Linked DNA regions of Homo sapiens. The protein of the gene in region 7 purifies or fractionates together with the protein of the main gene of each other region. This does not show direct contact. Each region holds a gene or a part of one and is shown on either strand. Other genes may lie near its edges. The genes, in order: TLN2, SERPINB6, PIK3AP1, BMP7, CEACAM5, DRG1 and SOSTDC1.

What was found.
Region 1: the proteins of SOSTDC1 (region 7) and TLN2 purify together in Homo sapiens (affinity purification with mass spectrometry, with the first as the bait; one study listed by BioGRID). This does not show direct contact.
Region 2: the proteins of SOSTDC1 (region 7) and SERPINB6 purify together in Homo sapiens (affinity purification with mass spectrometry, with the first as the bait; one study listed by BioGRID). This does not show direct contact.
Region 3: the proteins of SOSTDC1 (region 7) and PIK3AP1 purify together in Homo sapiens (affinity purification with mass spectrometry, with the first as the bait; one study listed by BioGRID). This does not show direct contact.
Region 4: the proteins of SOSTDC1 (region 7) and BMP7 purify together in Homo sapiens (affinity purification with western blotting, with the first as the bait; one study listed by BioGRID). This does not show direct contact.
Region 5: the proteins of SOSTDC1 (region 7) and CEACAM5 purify together in Homo sapiens (affinity purification with western blotting; one study listed by BioGRID). This does not show direct contact.
Region 6: the proteins of SOSTDC1 (region 7) and DRG1 purify together in Homo sapiens (affinity purification with mass spectrometry, with the first as the bait; one study listed by BioGRID). This does not show direct contact.

The regions. Positions count from the first base shown.
Region 1 is NC_000015.10:62,740,050-62,743,549, forward strand, and holds part of TLN2 (talin-2), read left to right. Parts: intron 1-580; coding exon 581-720; intron 721-3,500. UniProt on the Homo sapiens protein: As a major component of focal adhesion plaques that links integrin to the actin cytoskeleton, may play an important role in cell adhesion. Recruits PIP5K1C to focal adhesion plaques and strongly activates its kinase activity.
Region 2 is NC_000006.12:2,958,068-2,961,567, reverse strand, and holds part of SERPINB6 (serpin B6), read left to right. Parts: exon of another isoform or gene 1-598; intron 599-2,225; coding exon of another isoform or gene 2,226-2,235; coding exon 2,236-2,400; intron 2,401-3,500.
Region 3 is NC_000010.11:96,714,015-96,717,514, reverse strand, and holds part of PIK3AP1 (phosphoinositide 3-kinase adapter protein 1), read left to right. Parts: intron 1-3,500. UniProt on the Homo sapiens protein: Signaling adapter that contributes to B-cell development by linking B-cell receptor (BCR) signaling to the phosphoinositide 3-kinase (PI3K)-Akt signaling pathway.
Region 4 is NC_000020.11:57,225,142-57,228,641, reverse strand, and holds part of BMP7 (bone morphogenetic protein 7 preproprotein), read left to right. Parts: intron 1-220; coding exon 221-413; intron 414-3,500. UniProt on the Homo sapiens protein: Growth factor of the TGF-beta superfamily that plays important role in various biological processes, including embryogenesis, hematopoiesis, neurogenesis and skeletal morphogenesis.
Region 5 is NC_000019.10:41,711,626-41,715,125, reverse strand, and holds part of CEACAM5 (cell adhesion molecule CEACAM5 isoform 1 preproprotein), read right to left. Parts: intron 156-3,500; coding exon 1-155. UniProt on the Homo sapiens protein: Cell surface glycoprotein that plays a role in cell adhesion, intracellular signaling and tumor progression. Mediates homophilic and heterophilic cell adhesion with other carcinoembryonic antigen-related cell adhesion molecules, such as CEACAM6.
Region 6 is NC_000022.11:31,406,104-31,409,603, forward strand, and holds part of DRG1 (developmentally-regulated GTP-binding protein 1), read left to right. Parts: intron 1-3,500. UniProt on the Homo sapiens protein: Catalyzes the conversion of GTP to GDP through hydrolysis of the gamma-phosphate bond in GTP. Appears to have an intrinsic GTPase activity that is stimulated by ZC3H15/DFRP1 binding likely by increasing the affinity for the potassium ions.
Region 7 is NC_000007.14:16,462,939-16,467,104, reverse strand, and holds the start of SOSTDC1 (sclerostin domain-containing protein 1 precursor), read left to right. Parts: upstream 1-1,366; 5' UTR 1,367-1,436; coding exon 1,437-1,641; intron 1,642-4,141; coding exon 4,142-4,166. UniProt on the Homo sapiens protein: May be involved in the onset of endometrial receptivity for implantation/sensitization for the decidual cell reaction Enhances Wnt signaling and inhibits TGF-beta signaling. Directly antagonizes activity of BMP2, BMP4, BMP6 and BMP7 in a dose-dependent manner.

The DNA.
Region 1 (3,500 bases), on a different chromosome or scaffold from region 7:
TTTTTTTTTTTTTCTGCGCTCCTTTGACCTCCCTAAAAGAGATAACCAGGGTGTATCTTCTTCTAGTATCTACAAAGAATTGTTTCTCAGATGGCAACCGGGTGAGAAATGTGTGCTTTCCCGAGTCAGGAACTTCAGGGATGCAGTCAGCTCTGAATATCGAGACAGTGCTGGTCGTTTGTGCCAGGCCGAGATGTACAGCTCCTTGACAACTCCAGCATTGTTGAGCAAGATGCTGGAATCGCTGCCTGGTCTGTGCATTGGCTCACAGCTCGCTCACTCTCCTCCCACCCTGCTCCCCGCTTAATGCCTCTAGTTGTGAGAAAAGCACAGCTCTTGGCTGACCCACTTGGGGATGGATTTCTTTCCCTGTGGCATGCATCTTGATCTGAGCATCTGTTTGGAGAAGGGTAGACACTGGTCAGTGTCTCAACGAGTTAGGCATCTGCGGGCTAACTGGGTTTAATGTGATCTATACGGATAACCTGCCTGCATGTCAGGATGCTGCTCCTAGCTCTCTGAATGCCTCCTTCAAGAAATGGACAGGCCCTAATAGCTCCGGCTCCTTTTGACCTTCCAGACAAAAGAAGACCAGATCCAAGTGATAGGGAACCTCAAGAATATCTCGATGGCATCCAGCAAGCTGCTGTTAGCTGCCAAGTCTCTCTCTGTAGATCCAGGAGCTCCCAATGCGAAAAATCTCCTGGCTGCAGCTGCAAGGTAGGAGTGGGACACAATGTGCTTTCGTGTGTGGTTAGACAGTGTCATTGCAGTCTGAAGATGTGCCTGACATCCTCCCACTTTTGCTGAGCAAAAGAATTGGTGCTGTCCTTAGGTCATGGGAGGTGGAGCTGAGAGTGATGGACACTCTGATATTTTATAAAACTGGCTCATTTCCATGTTCTTTCCCCACTAAAAATATCTTCTGTCTTCTCATACAGCCTTTTCAGTAGAGACTTGTTTAGACGTAAGGTCCATTTTGACTTGTAAATGCAATGAATTAAACAGATTTTTTTTAAGTAGCATTATATCTTTCTGATTATAAAATAGTATATATGCTTCTTGAAACATCAGAAAATACTGAAAAGCGTAAAGATGAAAAGCAGTGCTCATCAAGTCATTCAGCAGACTTTTATTGAGCACTTAACCCTGTGCCTGGCATCAGTGTTAGATTGAATGTAACATGTTGTATCTGTCACATGGGGAAGGCTCCACTTTAAGATGAGTAGGGAGGCAGTGGGAATAAATTGTTTTTGGAAATATATTAAAACATGAGTGTGAATTTTGGATGATTTGGGTGTCCTTCTTTCCTGTTGGTTTCACCCAGGGAAGTGGATAAAACAGTATAGTTTCTGCTCCAGGGCCACAAGTTAGTTCAGTAACTAGTGGTTGAATGTGGTATGTGGAGCACTGCAGTGACAGCCCAGGGGGTTCTCGTATCAGCAGCCCCTCTTTCATTTTCCTGAACCCAGAGAGTAGGGTGGTCATGATTCTGTGGTGGTGCAGGCATGTTTTTTTAGCATTATTTACCATCATATTACGTATAAGAAAGCTGACAGTGGAGAGAGATTAAAAGCAGGACTATTAGGGGATAGAGAGTAATTGGAGGCCTTTTTATAATGTGCAGATTCGTGATTTTTGAAAAGCATAGCTTTGATTCTGCTTTCCTTTTTTTAACTTGGTTTTTTAAAATTTGCGCGTGTGTGTGTGTGTGTGTGTCTTTATGTCTCCCCTGGGAGATCATTGGCTGTTTTTTAAATTGTCGGCATCAAGAGACCTGAATTATATTCCAAGCTTTAATACTTGACTAACTCAGTCGCATTGGTCAGGTTGCTCAGCCTGTCTAAACTTTCCCATCTGCAAAGTGGGGGTATGAACTACATCATCCTTAAAGCTCTCCTTAGCTCTCAGCACATAAGATCTCATGGTACTCATGGTCCAAACATGTCCTTCCTCCCTCTTGGCTTGTAGTGGGGTGTGTGTGTGTGTGTGTGTGTGTGTGTGTGTGTGTGTGTGTGTGTGTGTGAAGGGTTAGACACTGTCAGAGCAGTTTGCTTGCAAACCCTTGAGTTTCTTCATTTATTCCTGGAAGGTACATTTTAACTGCAAACAATAGCTAGAGCCACTAGGGGACTGGAAAATTATCTTCCCATCTCATGCTTTGTTCGTGACTGTTCTAGTAAATAAGTGACCTCCCTTGATGGTGGGAGAGATGGGAGGTGGGGTTGGGGGTGATGTCTGTTCTGTTGAGCAGCTGTTTCTGATAGAAAACCCCCTCTTGATCGTTGCTTTTTTTCCTACAAAGGAGCCTTTGGATAAGGCAACTGACATTTCCAGGTATCAGAACTCAGATGTTTTTCATTATCTTCAATTTTTTGCATCATTTCAAAATTACAGTTTCCAGCTTGGAATGGCTTCACTCTCCTAAATTGTGGGAAGGAGGGGGAATGTATAAATTGCCCTTTTGAAAGCCAGATATAGAAGGAAACAGAGCCGGAAAGAATATTGCTGGTGTATGGCTCTGTGAATAGGTGCAGGCCCCCTGGTGGTGGCTTCGAAGAAAGGACATGGGGAAAAGGGGAAAAAAAAAAGCTTTCGTTGCCTTTCTGTCCTGGCTTTTAGCAGTTGACGGAGAATTCCCAGCCTGGTGATTTCATAGCCAGGTAAGCACTTAAAAATCATCACATGAAAATGATTGTCTTGGGATGGAACTGTTGCGAGAAAACGCTGGCACATTCTCCTTGGTTTTTTGGCACATTTTGGCAAGCTTCTGCTCCCTGGGGCTGTTTCTCAGCAGAGACTCCAGCCAGGTCAAGAGGGTCAGGCAGGCTCCTCTTGGGACACAAAGCTCTGCCAGGCTGGGGTTCATTCATTCATTGTCTTATTCATTCATGTCTTCATTACATAGATTTTCATCACAGGCCTGATGTGGGTGACGCCCAGTGCTGAGTGCACACTGTGAATAAGACAGGGCCTGTCTTATTATGTGTGTCTTTATATCTTGTGTATTTATAACCCTCATTATGTGGCCCTGGTGGAGTTAGGCAGGACTCACCACATGCTCCGCTCATTTCATCTGGGCCTAGAACAGTCCTGCATAAAAGTGCACAGGAAGCTGGGCAGAAGGGATCTGATCATCATAGTCTCAGTCCTCAGTCCTCTGTCCTCCTTGTTCTTGAGACTGTCAGGTCCTGCCTGTCCTTCCTGTGTGTATCCTCAAAGTCCCCAGAAATGCCACTGCGGGGACCCAGGCCTGGACCAACTCAGCCCTGTCCCACTCCTGTGTTAACAGTCTCAAACCCCTTATTATTTGTGGTCTCTGTGGTCCTTCTTGCTCTGGGAAGAAAAGGTTTGCTTCTGGAGAAAAAAGTAGAGGATGTCTTTTTCCTCTGTTCTTAATTCTGCTTCCGAGCCTGGGTACGTTTTTGGGACCCTACCTATCCCCTTGGTTTTGGATGCCTAGGGGAGAGGAAGTCATTTGCTATTTAGTGCCTGGTTTG
Region 2 (3,500 bases), on a different chromosome or scaffold from region 7:
CCTAGAAGTTTCCCTGTTTTACCAATTGTTTCTCTTCAAGTTGATAAGCGGGCAGTTCTTGTGATCTAGAATCCAAAGAACCAAAAATAGGCCCAATTTTGCTTCAGTTCCGTGTAATGGCTACTTTTGTTTATACTGGTGTTCCCAGGGCTCTGCGGAATCCTGGATTTATTTATGTATCATCAAAGACTCCCTTATATTCAGAAGAATTTTAGTAATATGTACTTTCTATTGTCCTTTTATTAGAAATTAGTAATCTTAAAATATGTTTGGAAAGGCTTGGCAAGCCAGGAGTGCCCAGTGCCCCAAGTATTCTGTGTAATGAATAAAGAAGAGTTTGAAAACAAAATATTTAAACAAGCACAGCAAACAAGCTTTATCAGGTGTATGAGTTATTGTCTTGGTTTCCCGTGGCTGCTGTAACAAATGACCATGGATTCGTGGCTAAACTGCACATGTTTATTTTCTCAGAGTTCTGAGGTTGGAGGTTGGAAATGGGTTCCGCAGGGCCAGGCTCCTCCAGAGGATCCTCCTTGCCTTTCCAGCTACTGCAGCTGTGGTCCTTGCGTTTCTTGGCTTGAGGCCCTTCATCTTCAAGGCCAGTGGAGTGGCATTTTGCTTTATTCTTTGCATTGCTTTTTCCCGTGAGATCTCCCCCTCCCTCCCTCTTAGAAGGATACCTGTGATTACATTTAGGGTCAACTGGAACAATCCAGGATAATCTCCCATCTCAAGAGCCTGAATCTAATCGTGCTGCACAGTCCCTTTTGCCATGTAAGGGGCATTCACAGGTCCCAGGGATTATGACCCAGGTATCTTTGGAGCACTTGCTCAGCCAACCCCAGCTCCAAATGTAAAGGCATGCACAGTGGAGAGCCGCTTAATTCAGCATCTCCTCACAGGGCCTCCAGTAGGCACCTCCTTCCCTCTCCCATCTGCTCCAGGAAATGTCTGCTCCAGCTTCTCCCCTTCCTTGTTCCGTGGGTTCCCACTCACTGCTCAAGTGAGTCACTGGGACTGTCTTAGAATGCTGGCATTCTCTGACTGGGACATATTCATTTGGTAAACATCTGAGAACTGTGTCAGAGCAGGCAGGCCCCGCATCCCTGCATTCCTGCATCCCCTCCTTCCCAGCCTGACTGCCTGTGGGGCCCTTAGCTGCCCCTTGTCCTCTCACCTGATTCTGCAGATTCTTCTTCTTGAGCAGCAGCTCAGAAAGCGCATCCGCCCTGCGTTTCAAGCCCAGCTACTTCTTAGCTTCACTTCCGTCAACTTCACCTTCCCTGTAGTGCAGTGGGGCATTGATGGTAGGTCTCTCTAAGGGCTTGGTGGACTTTAACATGTGATTCTGTGATTCCGACTTGCCTGAAGATACCCCAGCTCCCCCCTCCCGACTATCCAGCTGCATTCCTGCTCTGGACCCTGCTGGGGCTGCCACACCCACTGCACGGCAGGGCTAGAGAGATGTGCAGCCTGACCCTACCCCTGAGCCTGTCTGTGAAGGTGGAGATGGGCATGCACCCACAGCCCATGAGGCAAGGTGGTGTCCTGAGTGTGCTGTGAGTTCAGGCGCAGGAAGGCCTGGCTTGTTGCAGCAGGATGTCCCCAAGCGTGGTCCAAAATTGGGGCTTTGCCACCTGCAGGGATTTCCTAGAAGGAGATCCAAGGGTCAGGAGGCATTTGAAAGGCTTTCACGCATCTTTGTATGTGGCTTGATTGATCCTTTTTTAAGGCTCTTGCTACCCAGAAATGGGATTCTCTCTCTCATTATAAAAACATTTGGCCATCTTTTCTTGTGTAACTGTCAGTGAATGTATCATTTTGAATATTTTTCAAATTAAAACAGTACATTTAAGCCCGCAAAACACACCAAAGAATACAAACATAGAAGCAAAAGCCAGTGCCCCTTCTGTAATTCCACCCCAAGGAAGAGACTCCAGGAAAGGGTGCCTCCTTCCCACTTTCTCCACGTGCGGGCAGGCGTGCAGGGAGGAGTCCTCACAAAACAGGGCGGCGTTTCACATAGAACTCTTTCATTTTCCACACTTAACATTAGAAACACACAAAATAATGTGGAGGGTCCTAAAAAGAAACAGCCAGAGTTCTGTGTGTGTTTCTGCTTGCCCACTGAACCACAGCATCGGCGGTGACTGTCGGTAAGGCGCGTGAGATGCAGTCGCGTGGAAGCTGTGCTTAAGTGATACTGATTTTAAATCTTGTTCCAGGTCTGCCATCATGGATGTTCTCGCAGAAGCAAATGGCACCTTTGCCTTAAACCTTTTGAAAACGCTGGGTAAAGACAACTCGAAGAATGTGTTTTTCTCACCCATGAGCATGTCCTGTGCCCTGGCCATGGTCTACATGGGGGCAAAGGGAAACACCGCTGCACAGATGGCCCAGGTACAGCTTCAGGGCAGCCATGGTGCTATTAACTGTCAAGTTAGCTGGTCCTCCTTATTCCAAATCCCAAAGGGATCGCTCGAGACGGATGACTGTGCAGTATTGCAGGGTGTGGGTGGCGAGTTTACAGGGAAGGGCATGCCACCCATGCTGGAGCACCCTGGGGACAACACCCTGACTGACCCCCTGGGGTGGAGAGGGGGCGCCCGATTCAGAGGAATGAATGATTTCATCATCACATGGCTTAGCTTGTTCGTGAGTTTGTAGATGGTTGTAAAGTCACAAGGTTCAGGTTGAGTCCTGTGATGATCTTTGGGTACTGTCATCTGCTTGTTGGTTGTTAGGAGTCTTTATTTTCTCATTTACGCGTAAAGCCTTCTTAGAATGGCATTTGTCAGCTAAACATGTTTTCAGTAGCGTTCTGGTTATTTGTTGTTGTGTAACCAGCTCTCCCAGCTTAGCAGCTTTCCTGGTTGTTGAATCTGGGTGGATTGAGTGGTGCTTCTGCACCACTTGGCACTGGGTGGGTCCCTTGTGGGCTGCGTCAGCGGGGGCTCAGCGGGGCGCTGGGCGTCTTCTCCGTGGCCTTCTCCGCTGGGGCCTTCCACATGCTTCCTTCAGCAGCGTTGCCTGGGCTTCCGTAGGCCTGGCGGCTGGGTTCTGAGAGGAAGTGCTCGCAGAAGACAGGCTTGAAACAAGTACCCATCACGTCCCCGCCTGTGTCCTGCTTGCCAAGGCCCCACTGCCAAAGGCAGAGGCATCTCCGCGCCTGAGAGGGGTTGAGAGAGGGTGCGCACACCACAGATGTAGCTGGTCGGGGCCACCCGTGACTGCTGTGGTCTGCCCTCTGGACCTGGTGGTTCCCTGGGAGCCTGAGATCCAGGTGTAGGCAGGGTTGGTTTCTCCTGCAGCCTTTCTCCTCGGCTTGTAGACACTGTTTTCTCCCTGTGTCCTCACATGGTCATCTCTCTGTGTGTGTCTGTGTCCTCATCTCCTCTTTTTATAAGGACATGAGTCCTATTGGATTAAAGCCCAACCTAATGGCCTTATGTTACCTTAATCACCCCTGTAAAGGCCCTCTCTGCAAATGCAGTTCCATC
Region 3 (3,500 bases), on a different chromosome or scaffold from region 7:
CCTAAATTTGAACAACTTCTGGGGTGGGAAGCTCCTGATATGATTGACCACATCTCTCCTTATCCTGGTCACCTTCCCTATCTCTCATCCCTCTTCAAATATGGTGTTCAGATTCAAACATGGGGCTCCAGGATGGATGAATGGGGTGCCAGAGTCACCTATAGGCTGAAGAAATGGTCTGGGCTGGGTGGTTTGAGAAGCTTTCTGGCACTTCCTGTCTGTACTTCTCTCCAGTGAGTTTTTTTTTTTTTTTTTTTGAGACGGAGTCTCACTCTGTCACCCAGGCTGGAGTGCAGTGACACGATCTTGGCTCACTGCAAACTCTGCCTCCCAGGTTGAAGTGATTCTCGTGCCTCAGCCTCCCGAGTAGCTGGGATTACAGGTGCCCACCACCATACTCAGCTAATTTTTGTATTTTTAGTAGAGACAGGGTTTCACCATGCCAGGCTGGTCTTGAACTCCTGGCCTCAAGTGATCTGCCCTCCTTAGCCTCCCAAAGTGCTGGGATTACAGGTGTGAGCCACCACGCTCGGCCCTCCATTGGGCTCTGAATCCTGCAAAGGCACCTCTCTTTCAGCCCCAGCTTTTCACCCCATGGACTCCCTGCTGCTACAGCCTCCCCTTCCTCTGCTGTGATCCATTTCTTTCTCCTTCTGTAGCCAAACCTGTTCTTGACGTTTTACGAGGACAAAGAAAGACCCTTCCTCATTTCTTTCTAGGGCTTGTAGACTCCTTGTTAGCTCATGTGTTTCATTTCTCTTAATAAATGAACAAGCAAAAAAAAAGAGAGATGTGATTGAGGATAAGTGGAAAAGCTACTTATGGTTAAAGGAAGAGGATTATTGCTGAAGAAAGGAGTTTCCCCCATATAAGGCAGAGTTGCTGACAAAGCATTTAGTCCTATATTGTTACCCAGCACATCAGAAAGGGACTGGAACTTTCACTTTGGACTTTTTAAAAACTTCCCCTTCTTTCAGTTTCCCAGCACAGCAATATTCGGGAAGGTGATAGATTTCATTGTCCTCATTTACATCAAGGCAAATTTGCCTAGACTTAGTAATTGGTCTAAGTCACACCACAGGTTAGTGACCAAATAGGTTGTAATGTTAACTAGTCTGAGGCAGTAATTAATTTCTCCTCAAATACTTTCACTCAAAGGGAATTGAATTTAACACTAGAACCCCAGGAGTGAGACATTGTGCATTTATTTATTTATTTATTTATTTATTTAATGAGACAGGGTCTCACTCTGTCATCCAGGCTGGAGGGCAGTGGTACGACCTGGGCTCACTGCAACCTCTGCCTCCCAGGTTCAAACAATTCTCATGGCTCAGCCTCCTGAGTAGCTGGGACTACAGGCGCATGCCACCACGCCTGGCTAATTTTTGTATTTTTTTGTAGAGTTGGAGTTTCACTATGTTGGCCAGGCTGGCCTCGAACTCCTGGCGTCAAGTGATCCGCCTGCATTGGCCTCCCAAAGTGCTGGTATTACAGATGTGAGCCACTGTTCCTGGCCAGGAATGAGACATTTTGAATAGCTGTTCTGTTTGTTTATTTGTTTGTTTTTTAAATATAGGAGATTTAAGTGCTCTTTATTTCAATTGTACTTTTTTTTTTTTTTCTTTGAAATGGAGTCTCGCTCTGTTGCCCAGGCTGGAGTGCAGTGGCATGATCTCAGCTCACTGCAAGCTCCGCCTCCCGGGTTCATGCCATTCTCCTGCCTCAGCCTCCTGAGTAGCTGGGACTACAGGTGCCCGCCACAATTCCCGGCTAATTTTTTGTATTTTTAGTAGAGACGGGTTTTCACCATGTTAGCCAGGATGGTCTCGATCTCCTGACCTCGTGATCCACCCGCCTTGGCCTCCCAGAGTGCTAGGATTACAGGCATGAGCCACCGCGCCCAGCCTCAATGATACTTTTAAATAAAATTTTATTTTAGAACAATTTTAGATTTCCAGAAATACTACAAAGATAGTACAGAGAGTTCTCATATAGACCACATCCAGTTTCACCTATTATTGACATCTTACATTAGTGTGGTTTTTGTGACAATTAGTTAACTGATACTGATAAATTATTAATAACTAAAAGTTCAGGCTTTCCTCAGATTTCCTTAGTTTTTATGTAATGTCCTTCTTCTGTTCCAGGAGCCCATCTCAGGTACTACGTTATATTTGGTAGTCATGTCTCCCTAGGCCCTTCAAGGCTGTGATTTTCTCTGATTTTCCTTGTTTTTGATGGCTTTGACAGTCTTGAGGAGTACTGGTCAGTTATTTTGTAGAATAGCCCTCAGTCGGGATTTGTATGATATTTTTTCCCATAATTAGACCAGGGTGCTGGGTTTCAGGGAGGAAGACCACAGAGGTAAAGTGCCAGTCTCGGCCCATGGTATTCAGGGCACACACTCTCAACATGATTTGTGACTGTCAATGCTGACCTTGATCACTGGGTTTCTCTATTGTAAATTTACTCTTTTTTTTTTCTCCCTTTCCACACTGTGCTCTTTGGAAAGAACTCACTTGACACAGCCAAACACTAAGTTCTCTGTATAAGGAGTTACACTCTACCTCCTTGAGGGTGGAGTTATCTATCTACATAAATTATTCAGAATTGTTATGCATGGGAGATTTGTCTTTTTTCCCCAGTGTATTTATTCAATTATTTATTTTGTATCAGTATGGACTCCTGTATATTTCTTTTATGCTTTGGGTTATAATTCAATATTATTTTATTTATTTTGTTGCTCAAATGGTTCCAGCTTTTGCCACTGGGCGCTTTGAGTTGACTCGTGTTCCTTTGACATATGCCTGTCATTGAATTTTTGTTTGAGCATTACTTTCTGGCACTACAAGATGCTCCAGGCTCATATTGAATATTTCCTGCCCCAGGAAGTATTTAATCCTAGACTCATTCCTAGAATCCATCATTTCACTAAGGAATCCTGGATCCTTTTATTGGAGAATGGTATGAGAAACCCATGGCACTAGATGTATTTTATTAACTGTATTTTCTAAACTATATTCTGTATTTCCTTGACTTTTTAAATTGGGTGCAACTTAGAGATTAAGAGCATGGACTTTGGAGTCAGATCCCTGCTCTGGCACTGACTAACAATGTGCACTTGGGCAGCAGCAGCAGTAAATCTTCAACGAGTTTTAATGTCTGTGTCTGTAAAATGGGGCTTTTTGATAACATATACTTTGTGGATTGTTCTGAGGATTAAATGAGAGAATGTACATGAGATGCTTAGCAGAGTGACTAACACATGATCAGTGCTCAGGAAACAGAGCTGAATCACGATTTAAACTTTCCTTGATGACTTGGAGTCTTTTTTTTTTTTGAGACGGAGTTTCGCTGTTATTACCCAGGCTGGAGTGCAATGGCACGATCTCAGCTCACTGCAACCTCCGCCTCCCGGGTTCAAGTGATTCTTCTGTCTCAGCCTCCCGAATAGCTGGAATTACAGACGCATGCCACCATGCCCGGCTAATTTTTGTATT
Region 4 (3,500 bases), on a different chromosome or scaffold from region 7:
TGCTCTTGTCGTTCAGGATGACCATGGGGACCATGGGGTCTGAGCCTGTGACCCTCCAGTCTACAGTGTGTTGGTGAGGAAGGAGCAGTTGTCACTGGGGTCACTGGCAATGGGCATGCCTCCATCTAGCTTAGGCAAGATGCTTGGACTCAGAGCCAGAGAGTGAAACCCAGACACTAATGAGCTGTCGGTGTTGGTGTGTGTTCTCTTCCTCTTCCAGTGGAACATGACAAGGAATTCTTCCACCCACGCTACCACCATCGAGAGTTCCGGTTTGATCTTTCCAAGATCCCAGAAGGGGAAGCTGTCACGGCAGCCGAATTCCGGATCTACAAGGACTACATCCGGGAACGCTTCGACAATGAGACGTTCCGGATCAGCGTTTATCAGGTGCTCCAGGAGCACTTGGGCAGGTGGGTGCTATACGGGTATCTGGGAGAGGTGCTGAGTTTCCTCTGGGGGCAGAGGAAGAAGGTGGTGAGGGCCAGAGGATGGGTCAGATTGGCACAACCACGTGCCAGGCCCTGTACCAGATTATCCCTTCTAAAGAAGGTGTATGGTGTATGTCACTTCCTTAAAACCATGACCGACAACAAATTCAGGAATAGTAGAAGGCCAGGGAGCCCAGGGATGCGTGGTGCCTTGTGGGTTTTTATAGGCAGTCTAGATCTGGCTGGGTGCTAAGGGACATAGAAGAAAAGGGGAAGGGGAAGAAACATTTTTGAAGGGCTACCTCTCTCCCGTTTCTCACTCTGAAACCCAGTGCACGATGTCAGGCAACCAATTAAGGTGGCCATCTAAAATAAAATGTTAGGGGAAGAAAAAAACCCAAACCAAAAAAAACAGAGAACTCTTAGCCTTCCAAGAATCACTAGGTCAGAAACCAAACGTTTGTGTTGAAAGTCTTTAATTTATCGAGATCCATTAATTTCAAGGTCTTGTGAGAGGTAAGGAGGCTAAGAAAAAGGGCTGGGACATTTAGCAGGTGCATTCTATTCAGACAGTCCCGAGGCAGAAATGACCAAGGTCCTATTACTCAGTGGCTGGGTTGCTGGACCCCGCAGGCTGTCAGACATCTACCGTCCCCACTGGGCAGGGAAATTGATGGAAGAAAGGTGGTGTGGGCACCTCCTTGTGATGTGCAGGCTTAGCATCTTCAGCTAGAAAGGGGACTTGTTACCATAGACAGGGACAGAAGAACCATCACAGCTACGTTTGCCAAGCACTGCTATTTGGTGCTGGTGGGGGGTGGGGGTGGGGATGGTCATCTAAGTACCAAGAAAACAAAACTGTTCTTGAGCGTTTCCAGAGTGTTTTGCACTTGATATCTTGTTTCATATTCACAGTAGCCTTCAGAAGTGGTGGCTTATCTGTAAAATGAGGAGAACTAAAGTGACCTGAAGCCAAAGAATGAGGCTACCCAGAGAGAATGTGGCCACATTAGGACGTGAGCCCAGGTTTGCAAAGCTGGAGCCCATGCTTATGAAAGATATTTCTTTCCAAAATTTGTTTTTAGGCCGGGTGTGGTAGCTCACGCCTGTAATCCCAGCACTTTGGAAGGCCAAGGCAGGTGGATCATTTGAGGTCAGGAGTTTGAGACCAGCCTGGCCAACACGGTGAAACCCCGTCTCTACTAAAAATAGAAAAATTAGCCAGGCATGGTGGCGGGCGCCTGTAATCCCAGCTACTTGGGAGGCTGAGGCAGGAGAATTGCTTGAACCCAGGAGGAGAAGGTTGCAGTGAGCCGAGATGGTGCCACCGCACTCCAGCCTGGGTGACAGAGTGAGACTCTTTCTCAAAAAAAAAAAAAAAAAAAAGTTTTTGAGTAGGCAAGACATGTTCATGGTATAAAATCAAAAGGAAAGAAGAGGAACCACAGTGAAAATGAAGGCTTCCAGCCCCTGCTGAGGTGGTCCCTGATGCCAGTTTCTTGAGTCTCCTGAAATCAGCGAAGGAATCTGTGTTGCTGTTTTCACCTGTGGAACCCCACAGTGCACTCACTCCTGCCTCTGGCTTTCATCGTTGGATGATGAACCTTGGCAGCCCTTTCCAGGGGTTCACACGGGGTGCCCTCATCCTCTGAGTCACCTCACTGTTCCACGGCTTGGGTTGTGCTGTGTTTCACGTGTGCACGCTGGCTCCTCTGTTCTATGATGGATGGTGCCGCAGGGCAAGTACCCTCGCTGACATACGTGTTCATGTCTATCAGTCAGATAAAGTTCTAGAGATAGAATTGTGGGGTCAGAGGGCCCACACATGGGTGGCTTTGGTAGACACTGCTGAGCAGCTCTCCTGGGAGGTGACATCGACATCTACTCCCAGCAGCCAGGGAGCTTCTTGCTTAGGATGAAACCACAGCCTCTGTGTCCAGGCTGTTATCTGGATTCTCCACTCAGCTCCGGCAGCTCTTGGTCCTTCCTGCTGGCTTTGTGGGCACCTGGTCCCATCATGGTCTGTGGTGCCTCTGCTGTCTTGCCTGAGATCCATGGGGTGGATCCTGAGGGCTGCAGGGTTGGGCAGCAGGCCTGAGCACTGTGTTTGGAGGAGGGATGGGCGTTCCAGGCGTCCTCCCTGCCAGGCTGCCGGCAACAGGCAACTTGGGCTGGGGGTGCCCATTCTAGTGCTGGGGTCCTGCTCCTGGGGGCTTCTGGGCTGCTGAGTGACTGAGTCCCTCCTCAGCACAGGTACCTGCTGCATGCCATGCCTGAGGGCATCGACCAGAACGAACCAGACACGAGTCCCTGCCCTCTGGAAGCTCACGTTCCAGCAGAGGAGAGGACATGGCAGGTGGGAGCATTGAGCAAGGAAGGGAATAGGGTGAGAAGCAGTGGAGGGCAAGACGGAGCTGCTTTCTTTAGGTTTCTACATGTTCTTCCTGTGCCTCCTGCAGCAAAGCCTCCATTCTTCAGAAGTTAAATGGTTAAATTTAAAAAATATATTATTTATTCATTTTTCTGGACAGGTTGTTTTGTTTTTCAACCTAGAACCAAGATGCCCCTATGATGTAATTCCCCAGCTATTAAGAGCATGGATTCAAATCCTGCCACCAGCTACCCATGTGGCCTTGGGAAAGAGTCATCTCTCAGAGCCTCAGTTTTTCCCTCTGTAAAATGGGGATAATAATTGAATCTCCCTCCCAGAGTTGTGCTGTGGATGAAAGGGGGTGACATACTTACAACAGTGTCTTACACACAGGAAGTGCTCAATAAATGGTCACCTGCGTTAGTATCATCATCATCACAGCAGGAAGTGGAGCAAGACCTCTTTAGGAAGACAAGAGCCCTGGGTGGTGGCTGTGGCACTGCCTTCCCATGTAGGTCCACCGAGCCAATTCCCCTAATTCTGCAATCTTCCAGTAGGAACAAAGCCCTGAGCTTGCAAATGCTCTTCAAATCCCCCACGCTTCCTCCAGCTCGCCTGTTCAGAGATAGGCTTTTTCTTTGCATGTCCCCAACCTGGTTGCATGTCCCCAACCTGGGCCCGCACAGCTTCTTCCAGCT
Region 5 (3,500 bases), on a different chromosome or scaffold from region 7:
CAGCTGCAGCCTGGGACTGACCGGGAGGCTCTGATTGTTTACCCACCACAGGTAGGTTGCGTCCTGAGTCTCAGGTTCACAGGTGAAGGCCACAGCATCCTTGTCCTCCACGGGTTTGGAGTTGTTGCTGGAGATGGAGGGCTTGGGCAGCTCCGCTGTGCAGATAACAGAGAGAAGATTGCCCTGTGTGGCACCTTTGATTCCTCACAGGCATCTTTCAATCAGAGTTGGCACCTTCCACCTCTCAGCCCACCTGAGCCCTTAAAAACCCACGGTGGGTGCATGTGTCACAAGACAGATGCACGATGATCTGAGATCTCAGAGACTGCGAGGCTGCCTGCTCGGTGTGGGGGAAGCACAGACTTTCTCAAGTGTGAATTAAGCAGCAGCATTGGGCTGTGAACAGACACAGGACTGGGGGGGAGGTCACAGCTCCTGGTGCCTCTCCTGGTCCCTCCCTGACCAGTTGACTACTTGGCCCACTGTAGGGTCCTCACCTGGAACATTCAAGTGCTGGGTCCCTTCCACCTTCAGTCCTACTTTGTTTCCCTAGGTATATTTTTTCTGTGGTTTCCCTTTGCAAGGACATCCTAGAAATGGATAGTGATGGGTCTTCCCATTGTCCTTAAACCCTGTACATATTGTGCAGCCTGGCCTGGGACTGGATGTTTCAGTAGAAATAACACAGGGGACACCAGAGGCAAGCCTGGAGGTCAGCTCAGTCGTTAGGCAGTGGAGGCACAAGGTGGGGCAGTTTTTCCCAGGTGTTTGATGATGACTGACTTGAGCCAGAGACCCCTAAAGATAGAGTGGAGTCCAGGGAATGATCTAGAACTTCAGGTGACAGGCAGGAGCTGCCCGGATTTAACAGCAGAACCATATGTATGTTCTTTGTCTTTGGTCTTTGTTTGTTTGTTTGTTTTTTGAGATGGAGTCTTGCTGTGTTGGCCAGGCACGATCTCGGCTCATGGCAACCTCTGCCTCCCGGGTTCAAGCGATTCTCCTGTCTCAGCCTCCCGAGTAGCTGGGACTACAGGCGCCCACCACCACACCCAGCTAAATTTTGTATTTTTAGTAGAGATGGGGTTTCACCATATTGGTCAGGCTGGTCTTGAACTTCTGACCTCAGGTGTTCTGCCCACCTTGGCCTCCCAAAGTGCTGGGATTACAAGCATGAGCCACTGCACCCGGCCTGTCTTTGGTCTTTAATGTCCCTTCTCCCCTTGCAGAGGGCAGGCGAGGATGCTGTGGATCTCTCCATAAATACATGTGGACATTTGCAAATGCAGAACTGACTGGTGGAAAAGGGGGAGCATGAACTGCTGGAAATCTGGCCCTCAAGGACCATGTGTGTTTGACAGTTATGAGACAGAACTTTGAGAAGAAGTTTTGCAATTATTTTCTCCCATTGGACATTATGCTAAATGAAATAAGCCACTCACAGGGCAGATACTGTAGGATTCCACTTATATGAAGTCCCTAGAGTAGTCACACTTGTGGAATCAGAGAGTAGAATGGTGGTTGTCAAAGCCTGGGAACTGGGGGAATGGAGAGTTGTTCATGGGTCTGCAGTTTCAGTTATGCAGGATGAGGAGGTTCTAGGGATCTGCTGTTCAGCTTGGTGCCTATAGTTCATACAGATTGAGTATGTCTTATGTGTAAGGCTTAGGACTAAAAGTGTTTTGGATTTCTGACTGTTTTTGAGTTTTGAATATTTGCAATATACTTACCAGTTTAGCACCCCAAATCTGAAAATACGGAATCCAAAGTGCTCCAGTGAGCCTTTCTTTTTTCTTTTCTTTTCTTTCTTTTTCTTTTTTTTGAGATGGAGTCTCGCTCTGTTGCCAGGCTGGAGTGCAGTGGCACGATCTCAGCTCACTGCAACCTCCACCTCCCGGGTTCAAGCGATTCTCCTGCCTCAGCCTCCAAAGTAGCTGAGACTGTAGGTGCATGCCACCACGCCCAGCTAATTTTTGTATTTTTAGTAGAGACGGGGTTTCACCATGTTGGCCAGGATGGTCTTGATCTCTTGACTTTGTGATCTTCCCGCCTTGGCCTCCCGAAGTGCTGGGATTACAGGCATGAGCCACCGTGCCCGGCCTTCAGTGAGCATTTCTTTTGAGAATCATGTCAGTGGTCAAAAAATGTTGGATTTTGGAGCATTTCAGATTTTGGATTTTAGGATTTGGGATACTCAATCTGTAGTACTATAATTTGCCCTTAAAAATTTGTCAGGAGTTTAGATCTCATGTTATTTTCTGACTATAGTTAAAAAAGTGAAAGACATTTGGGGGAAACATTAAATTTTTTCCATAAGTGGAAATTCTTATCAATGGCCTAAAGATCTAAGATCAATTGCTGGAAGTAGTACTTCTTTTAATATTATGCTAAGGTTTAGGTCTGCTCTGAATTCCAAAGTGATCACATTATGCTCAAAGGAAGATGCTGAAAGTGGTTTGAAATCAGTGACTCCCTGAACAGAGAGAGGGATGTGAGACCTGTTAAGAGGACAGAACCGGTCAGAGAGGAACTCTTAGGTGTGTCAATTACATAAAGGGAGAAATGATGCCAAGTTAGGAGAAGCAATGTGTGTGATGTTAGTAAATTTAGAAAGCGCTCCCTGCCCCTAGTTCCTGTGCAGAGTTAGGCAAAAAGAGGAGAAGCCTCAAAACAGGCATGTGAAAGGTTTTCTTCCTCTCCTATCAACCTCAGAAAACACAACTAGAGTTTAAGTTTTTGTAACTGGGTAGAGTCTAAGTGAGACGCCAGTGGCTGGTTCACTTCTCAGTCCAAGGGACTCCACCTTATGACAATGGCATCATCATGAGGACACAGGTGTATGTGGAATGGGCAGCAAACCTATCAGACAGCACCTGCCTGGCCAGCTCCACCTGGGGGAGGTCCCAGGATCCACTGGAGGATGTGAGCCCCACACCAGGATGAAGATGGAGTGGGTAGTGAAGTGAGTGAAATAAGCATGCGGGCTTTGGGGACTGCAGACCTGTCCTTCTGCCTCTGACCCCCTGGTGAGTCAGTGTAGGGAGTGGATGGAGGAGTCGCTCATTCCCGTCCTGCTGCCTGTTCCGTGTGTTGGCCTCATGGAAGTAAAGAGCCCTGGGCAGGAACACAGCGGAAGCTCATTCTCCTGGTGACCTGTTGACATTGGCTTGTGATGGAGCCTGGCAGGGGCTCCATCTGTGCCTTCCCTATTGCCTGTGATTTCTGTGCCTTCCCTATTGCCTGGGAAGTGGGCCAGGACACAGTGTGAGCGGCAAGAAAACAGGACAGCCAGCCTTGTTCAAGGGAGTGTCTGGGGAAGGCCTAAGAGTGGAGGAAGATGTTCAGGGATGGGCATCTCAGCTGGAATGAAGAGGGAGGAAGACGAAGAACATGGAGGAATAGAAGAAAGTCAGAAATGCCCATGGCAATGAGCCATGCGGGGTATAGTGACCTCGGAGACCCCAGGACTAGGAGTCCCTTGGCTGTCCCGACCAGGACCA
Region 6 (3,500 bases), on a different chromosome or scaffold from region 7:
TGATTCTCCTGCCTCAGCCTCCTGAGTAGCTGGGACTATAGGTATGTGCCACCATGCCCGACTAATTTTTGTATTTTTAGTAGAGACGGAGTTTCACTATGTTGGCCAGGCTGGTCTTGAACTCCTGACCTCATGATCTGCCTGCCTCGACCTCCCAAAATGTTGGGATTACAGGTGTGAGCCACTGCGCTTGGCCACTTACCTGCTTTTTGTTACTGTAGATTAGTTTACATGTTAAGAACTTTACATAAACAAAAACCACATATAAATATAAATGCACTTTCTTTTCCATAGGCTTCTTTCATTCTGCATAATTTTGCATTCATGTTGGTGAGCTTTTAATTCTCTCTCGTGGTCTTTTTTTCTCTCATTTTGTATAAACTTTTTGAGCTTGGCCAACATGTTGAAACCCTGTCTCTACTAAAAATAAAAAATTAGCCAGGCATCTTTAATACCAGCTCCTAGGGAGGTTGAGGCAGGAGAATTGCTTGAACCTGGGAGGCAGATGTTGCAGTGAGCCGAGATCGTGTTACTGCACTCCAGCCTGGGCGACAGAATGAGACCCTGTCCCGGAAAAAAAAAAAAAAAGTTGCAAACATAGTACAAAGAGTTCTCGTATCACTTGCCTGCTTCTCCTGTTGTTAACATCTTACATAACCATAGAAAAATTATCAGAGATAGATGAACATTTCTGCAACAGTATTCACTAAACTATAGATCTTATTTTAATTTTTACCTGTTTTTTCCACCAGTGTCCTTTTTCTCTTCTAAAATTTTTATCTAGGATCATCCCATGATGCATTTAGCTATTTCTGTCTATTTGTTTGCCATCTGCAGTAGTCTCTGTCTTATCTTTTGTGACCTTGTCACTCTCAAAGAGTAATGATCAGTTATTTTGTATAATGTTCCTCAATTTGGGTTTGTGTGATGTTTTCTCTTGGTTAGACTTATTAGGTATTTTTGGCAAGAATACCACAGAAATGATACTGTCTTTCTCAGTGCCTCCTACCATGGGATTCATATTGTCAGTATGTCTTATTGGTGATATTGTCCTCCATCAATTGGTTATGGTTGTGTCTGTAGGGTTTCTCTAAAGTTACCTTTTTTTGGACAGTTAATATATATTTTAGGGGAGATACTTCAAGAAGATGCAAATCCTGTTTTTCCTCAAACTTTTGCCTGCTCATTTTCGCATCCATCTGTGGGTCTTGTCTGTAACAGTTATTATTGTACTTTTGCCTCATGGTAATTCTCCCTCGCTCTGTCACCCAGGCTGAATGCAGTGGCACGGGTACGATCATGGCTCACTGCAGCCTCGACCTCCTGGGTTCAAGTGATCCTCCCACCGTAGCCTTCCAAGTAGCTGGGACTATAGGCATGCACTACCATGCCTGACTAATTTTTTATTTTTTTGTAGAGACAGAGTCTCAATATGTTGTCCAGGCTGGTCTTGAACTCCTGCACACAAGCAGTCTACCTGCCTCAGCCTCCTGAGGTGCTGGGGTTATAGGCATGAGCCACTGTCCTGGGCCTGAGTATGTTCTTTTGTTTGTTTTATTTTTATTTTTTATTTTCATTTTTCTTTTTTTTTTTTTTGAGTACGTTCTTGAATGGAGAAGTTGAACTGTCTCGCACCTGCTAAATCAGTTTTCATTGCAGTTTATTTAATGCAAAGTATATTTCTGTAATTTCTTATATTCTTAGAGCAAAGCATATCTGATTTAAATTATGTTTTGGTCAGGCGTGGTGGTTCAAGCCTATAATCCCAGCACTTTGGGAGGCCGAGGTGAGCGGATCACCTGAGGTCAGGAGATCGAGACCAGCTTGGCCAATGTGGTGAAACCCTGTCTCTACTAAAAATACACAAAAAAAATTAGTGGGGCATGGTGGCGGGCACCTGTAATCCCAGCTACTCGGGAGGCTGAGGCAGGAGAATTACTTGAACCTGAGAGGCAGAGGTTGCAGTGAGCCGAGATCACACCACCGCACTCCAGCCTGGGTGATGGAGCGAGACTCCCCTTTTTTTCCTTCTTTTTTTTTTTTTTTTTTTTTTGAGATAGAGTCTTGCTTCATTGCCCAGGCTGGAGTGCAGTGGTGTGATCTCAGCTCACTGCAACCTCTGCCTCCTGGGTTCAAGCAATTCTCCTGCCTCAGCCTCCTGAGGGAGCTGGGATTACAGGTGCCCGCCACTACGCCCCACTAATTTTTTTGTGTATTTTTAGTAGAGACAGGGTTTCACCATGTTGGCCAAGCTGGTCTTGATCTCCTGACCTCAGATGATCCGCTCACCTTGGCCTCCCAAAGTACTGGGATTACAGGCTTGAGCCACCATGCCCAGCTGAGAATCCCTATGAAAAAGCAAGGCCAGACACTGTGTCTCATGCCTATAATCCCAGCACTTTGGGAGACTGACGCGAGCAGATCACTTGAGGTCAGGAGTTCGAGACCAGCCTGGCCAACATGGTGAAAACTTGTCTCTACTAAAAATACATAAAAAAAATTGGTGGGGCATGGTGGCGAGCACCTGTAATCCCAGCTGCTCAGGAGGCTGAGGTGCGAGAATCGCTTGAACCTGGGAGGCGGACATTGCAATGAACCAAGATTGCACCACTGCACTTCAGCCTGGGCGATAGAGCGAGACTCATTCTCAAAAAAAAAAAAAAAAAAAAAAAGATATTTTAAGTGATGTTTTAATAAGCTGCATCTGTTTTCAGTTCATTTATGTGTATAATTCAGTATTTGCCATACAGTAGACCCTTGGTATTTTTAGATTTTATATTTGTTTTAACTGTTTTGACTGATTCTTAAGGGCAGTCAAATTAATAGTTTATAATTTTGCTGAGATGTAAATTTGAATCACATGTGCTGTGGGGTTGGTTTTTCAATCACATCATTAGGTACACTGAGTTCTGTGAAGTTTTACCTTACTGCATTTCCTGGGCAGTTGAGCAGTCATTTTTATCTTTTTAAAATCTTTTAAAATTTATTTATTTATTTTTATTATTTTTTGAGATGGAGTCTTACTCTGTCGCCCAGGCTGGCATAATCTCGGCTCACTGCAACCTTCGACTGTCGGGTTCAAGCCATTCTTGTGCCTCAGCCTCCAGAGTAGCTGGGATTACAGGTGTGTGCCACCATACCCGGCTAATTTTTGTATTTTTTGTACAGACGGGGTTTCACCATGTTGGCTAGGATGGTCTCGAACTCCTGAGCTCAAGCAATCTGCCTGCTTCGGCCTCTGGGAAAGTGCTGTGGAATTATAGGTGTGAGTTACTGGGCCCAGCCTGAGCAGTCATTTTTTACTGGGGACATACATCAGAGTCACTTGTAAAGCCTTTTGAAGTACAGATCCCTATCTGTTGGCCCTTCAAATCAGAATCTGCAGGGATGGGTTTCAGCTCTCTACATTTTAAAAGTTTTTCCAGGTGATTCGGTTGTGCCTGCTTAAGAACGGCTACAAAAATTTTTGTGAGTTGGGGATTTGCAGAAATTGCAATATG
Region 7 (4,166 bases):
TTTATAGTGAGATAGATGAATAGATAATTAGTGGTTAAATTGGGGGTGATTTTACCCTGTAGGGGTCATTTGGCAATGTTTGGAGTTATTTTTGTTACCAACTAGGGGGGTGCTACTGGCGTCTAGTCGTTAGAAGCCAGGGATGCTGATAAACACACAGGATGGTCCCCCAATAATAAAGAACTGTCTCTTCCAAAATGCCAGTAGCGCTGCTATGGAGAAATTCAGGTAGGCAGACATATAGGCAAATGGCAGTTACAAGGGACAAAAGCTTATACAGAAAAGAGATACAAAATTAGGTGATTTAGGTAACCACACAAAGGACAAAAATGGATTTATAATTGAAAAGATGATTCAGAATAGTTATTCCAATTGAGATGTCCCATGATGAAATAGAATTTTATGATTGTTTTAAAGGGATCATCAGTGGCCTATAATTAATTAATGGAACACGTGTTCTGGGTGCCGGTAAAGTAATTCAGAAAAATAGGTTTCTTACTTGGGCAGCAGAGTCAAAGGAAGTAATGAGCAAAATATTTAGTAAATACGAGTAGAATCTGTGTTCTGAAAAAATCTAGAAAAAATTATTTTGAATCCGCTAAAAAGTCTGTCACAAATGGCTTTATGTAAAACAATGCTATGGATATTAATGCTTGTGACACATTTTTAAGACAAAAATGAGTATTACTTACTTTAATGTAGACAGAACTATGCTCATTATTCTCCACACAAAACCCCTGGCAATAATTTACCTAGCAGCACAGTAGTTCTTGTAGATCAAAGCTGCATTATTTAAGCATGTCCAGGGGGCAGGTTTTAGCTCTGTGCCTTTTACTTTAAGGAAAAAAAAATATTGGTTTGCTTCTTGAGAGAAAGCAATGTTTAGCTAACTAGGTGCTTCATGCAAGTCCTGCAATATTTAAACTCACATGAATTCCTCCTGTTATCTGGGAAGAACTCCCTTTCTGACCCAAATACTCTAAAATCTGAGGAAAGTACAGAACAACTGTGGGAAAGCCAGTCTCTTCAAATGAACAGCGATGTATTTTCGTTTAAATTAAACCCGAATGTTAACTAGATTCAGGAAAGGAAATGGCAGAGGAGAGTCTGTCGTTGATATAGAATACGCCTGCCTGCGTCGGCTCACAGACAAGTGATGAAGTCCAACTCTGAAATTTCAGGCAATTTGTATACCAAGCTCCTCCTTTTCTGCAGTCTTCTTTTCCATTGGTAAAATTCTTTTGCAGGGTCATGTAGGGATCCCACCCCTTCTCTGTGTTTTCACTCTGAAGCTCTACACAACTTTACACCTGAATGAACGCCAAACCTCTATGGATATATAAAGGGAAGCTTGAGGAGGAATTTCACAGTTACAGTGCAGAAGCAGAAGCAAAAGAATTAACCAGCTCTTCAGTCAAGCAAATCCTCTACTCACCATGCTTCCTCCTGCCATTCATTTCTATCTCCTTCCCCTTGCATGCATCCTAATGAAAAGCTGTTTGGCTTTTAAAAATGATGCCACAGAAATCCTTTATTCACATGTGGTTAAACCTGTTCCAGCACACCCCAGCAGCAACAGCACGTTGAATCAAGCCAGAAATGGAGGCAGGCATTTCAGTAACACTGGACTGGATCGGAACAGTAAGTGTGTTTTACTTGTACAGTTTTTTTTTTTCTTTTCTGGTAGCATTAGCTCACATTCCTGTAGAATTGTTTTATTGGTAACTAACCTGAACCGTATATATGTTGTGAAACAATTTGGGAGTAATCTGCTGCATGTGCAGGTTGGCATTCTTCCCTAGGTAGTGATTTTAAAGTTAACCTAACTAAAACAGTGGTTTAATAGTGCAAGCACAGACTGAAGTTTTATCAAACATCCACAAAGAAAACATTTCCAGGAATTAAACTATTGTTTTGTCAAAATCATGCAAAATGACCATTTTAAAAAGTATTGTTTTAGATAGCTCAAGTTCCGGTTGTTTTGTCAATTTATTTCAGGGCATATGCAATTTTGGTAAAGTGTATAAACGTAACTAATATATATTATTAGTTACCATCCACAAATAAATATAGGGAATCACAAGGGAAAAAAGGAAGCTTCCAGGAGAAAAAATTTGTTTACATTGGATTTCTAAAATATGTCTAGTGAGATAGTCAAAAGTTTTGATGATGCTCAATGTAAAAGAGGGATAAACTAAAAATGTTGGAGAATCACATTTTTCTAAAATAATTCCTTGTTGTCCCATTCAAAATTTAGATAATTGTGTATTTCTGTGACAGACTGGGGACATTTTTGTAACTTAAGAGATGTAAAACAACAGCTTAGTTGACACACTAATTGACCACTGGTTAGGGGGATTCAAATTACCCCTAACTTTTGTTTCTATCTTTTCCTTTAGAAGAGGCCATATGCTAATAATCAGGTTTTAAGAGAGAGAGAGAGAGAGAGAGAAACACTGCGCAGGAAATCTTACACAAATCTTTTGCCTCTCCTTCTTCACTCCATTCAACTACGAAAAGTAGTTTTGACTTTTGAAAAGTCAAAGCAAATTTGACTGTTAATGTCTAAGAAAGCTAGGATGTTTTAACTTTCACGAAGCTGGTTGCTTTTAAGTACACAGGACATATCTGATTATTATTAGATTACTGAGCAATGTGGTGGGTATTCGTTGTCAATGAACTGTCACTGCAAAAATGCCAAATCTGTATATACACAGGAACAGAAAGCTTGACGAGACAAAATTATTTCTGGCTATTTCCAGGTGCATTCCTGAGGCAGCTGCAGGAAGGTGAGCTGGAGGCAGAATCAGGCACGCTGAGCACACTGTCCAACCAAACAATTTACGCTTTACATTTTAATCCCACAATTCTAGATTTCTATGCATGCATGTCTATATACATAAGTTTTTCCACAACTATCACGTTCCCCTTAAGCTATATCTCTTACCTCAGAAGTACTAGCATACAGAGATGAAGTGAAACTCCTGATTCAGTTCTACTTCGACGTATCTTTCAGTACTTTTTGTGGAACCACTTCAGTGTCCCTTATCATTTTTATTTGTAAAATGTCAGCAGCCTGTACTTTTAAACATCCTTTTTTTTTTTCCTGGTTGGCAAGCCTTGATTTCTTTTCAAGCTTGTTATAGGCAATTCTCCTCAAGTTTAGATAACAAAGCAAGGGTAAGGAAAACTTAAAATATTTAAAGATTAATTTTTGCTTTAATTACATAAGGCATGTAACAAGAAACAGCCAATTAGAGAACATACCTATCAAATCCAAATAACTAAAACAAAAAGTTTGCCATGACCAATATTCAGGAAATGAACACCGTGGTTCCTTTTGCAGTTGTAAATCAGACATGTTAGGCATTTTTCTGCCATAAAATTCATGGAAATGTAGCCAAGTTGTTATGGCAACCATACGTTCCTGATTTAGGGGCTTTTATATTCTTTGAGTCTTGAGTTGTAGTGGCATTTTACATTTCAAACATGTTACTGTTTGTATTTTTTAAAAGATAGTTTGGGAATTTATGTTTAAAACATAGTTATTAAGTTTGATATGCAAAATGTCAGATGTTGTACACATGTATGTCTGAGTCTCTGCAGCTAAAGTCTATAATTGAAATAAAATATTACCGAGAGCATATGCATTATACACAATATTTAAATGGCTATCACATTTTTTCTCAACAGATTTTTAAAAAGCCTAATTAAAAACACTTGCAGACATTAGCCAATATGACCCTTGAGAAAGAGAATATTAAAGTATACTCTTAACTCATTGAATAATGAATATTTACACATAAATGGAAGAGCTGCTAACCCCTTATTGGAGAGTCAGACTAAGGAAATTGGATTTTCAAACACTCTAATAAGCAATTAGCTAATGTTATATATAAAAACAATCAGGCCTACATTTTTTTTCCCAAAAAAGTTATAGCCATGTAAACTGATGATTTTCATGAAAGTGTCCCTATACTATCCAGACAGATTTTTTTCACTGTGAAAATAAAGTAGGTGCTCACTTTCTATTTGGCAATTTGCTATCATTTGCCTATTATTTTTGTCATTGCAGATCACTTTTTAAAAGGTCTTCATTTGCATTTTTTCTCTGATGCACATTCTTTTTTGTTTCCTGCAGCTCGGGTTCAAGTGGGTTGCCGGGA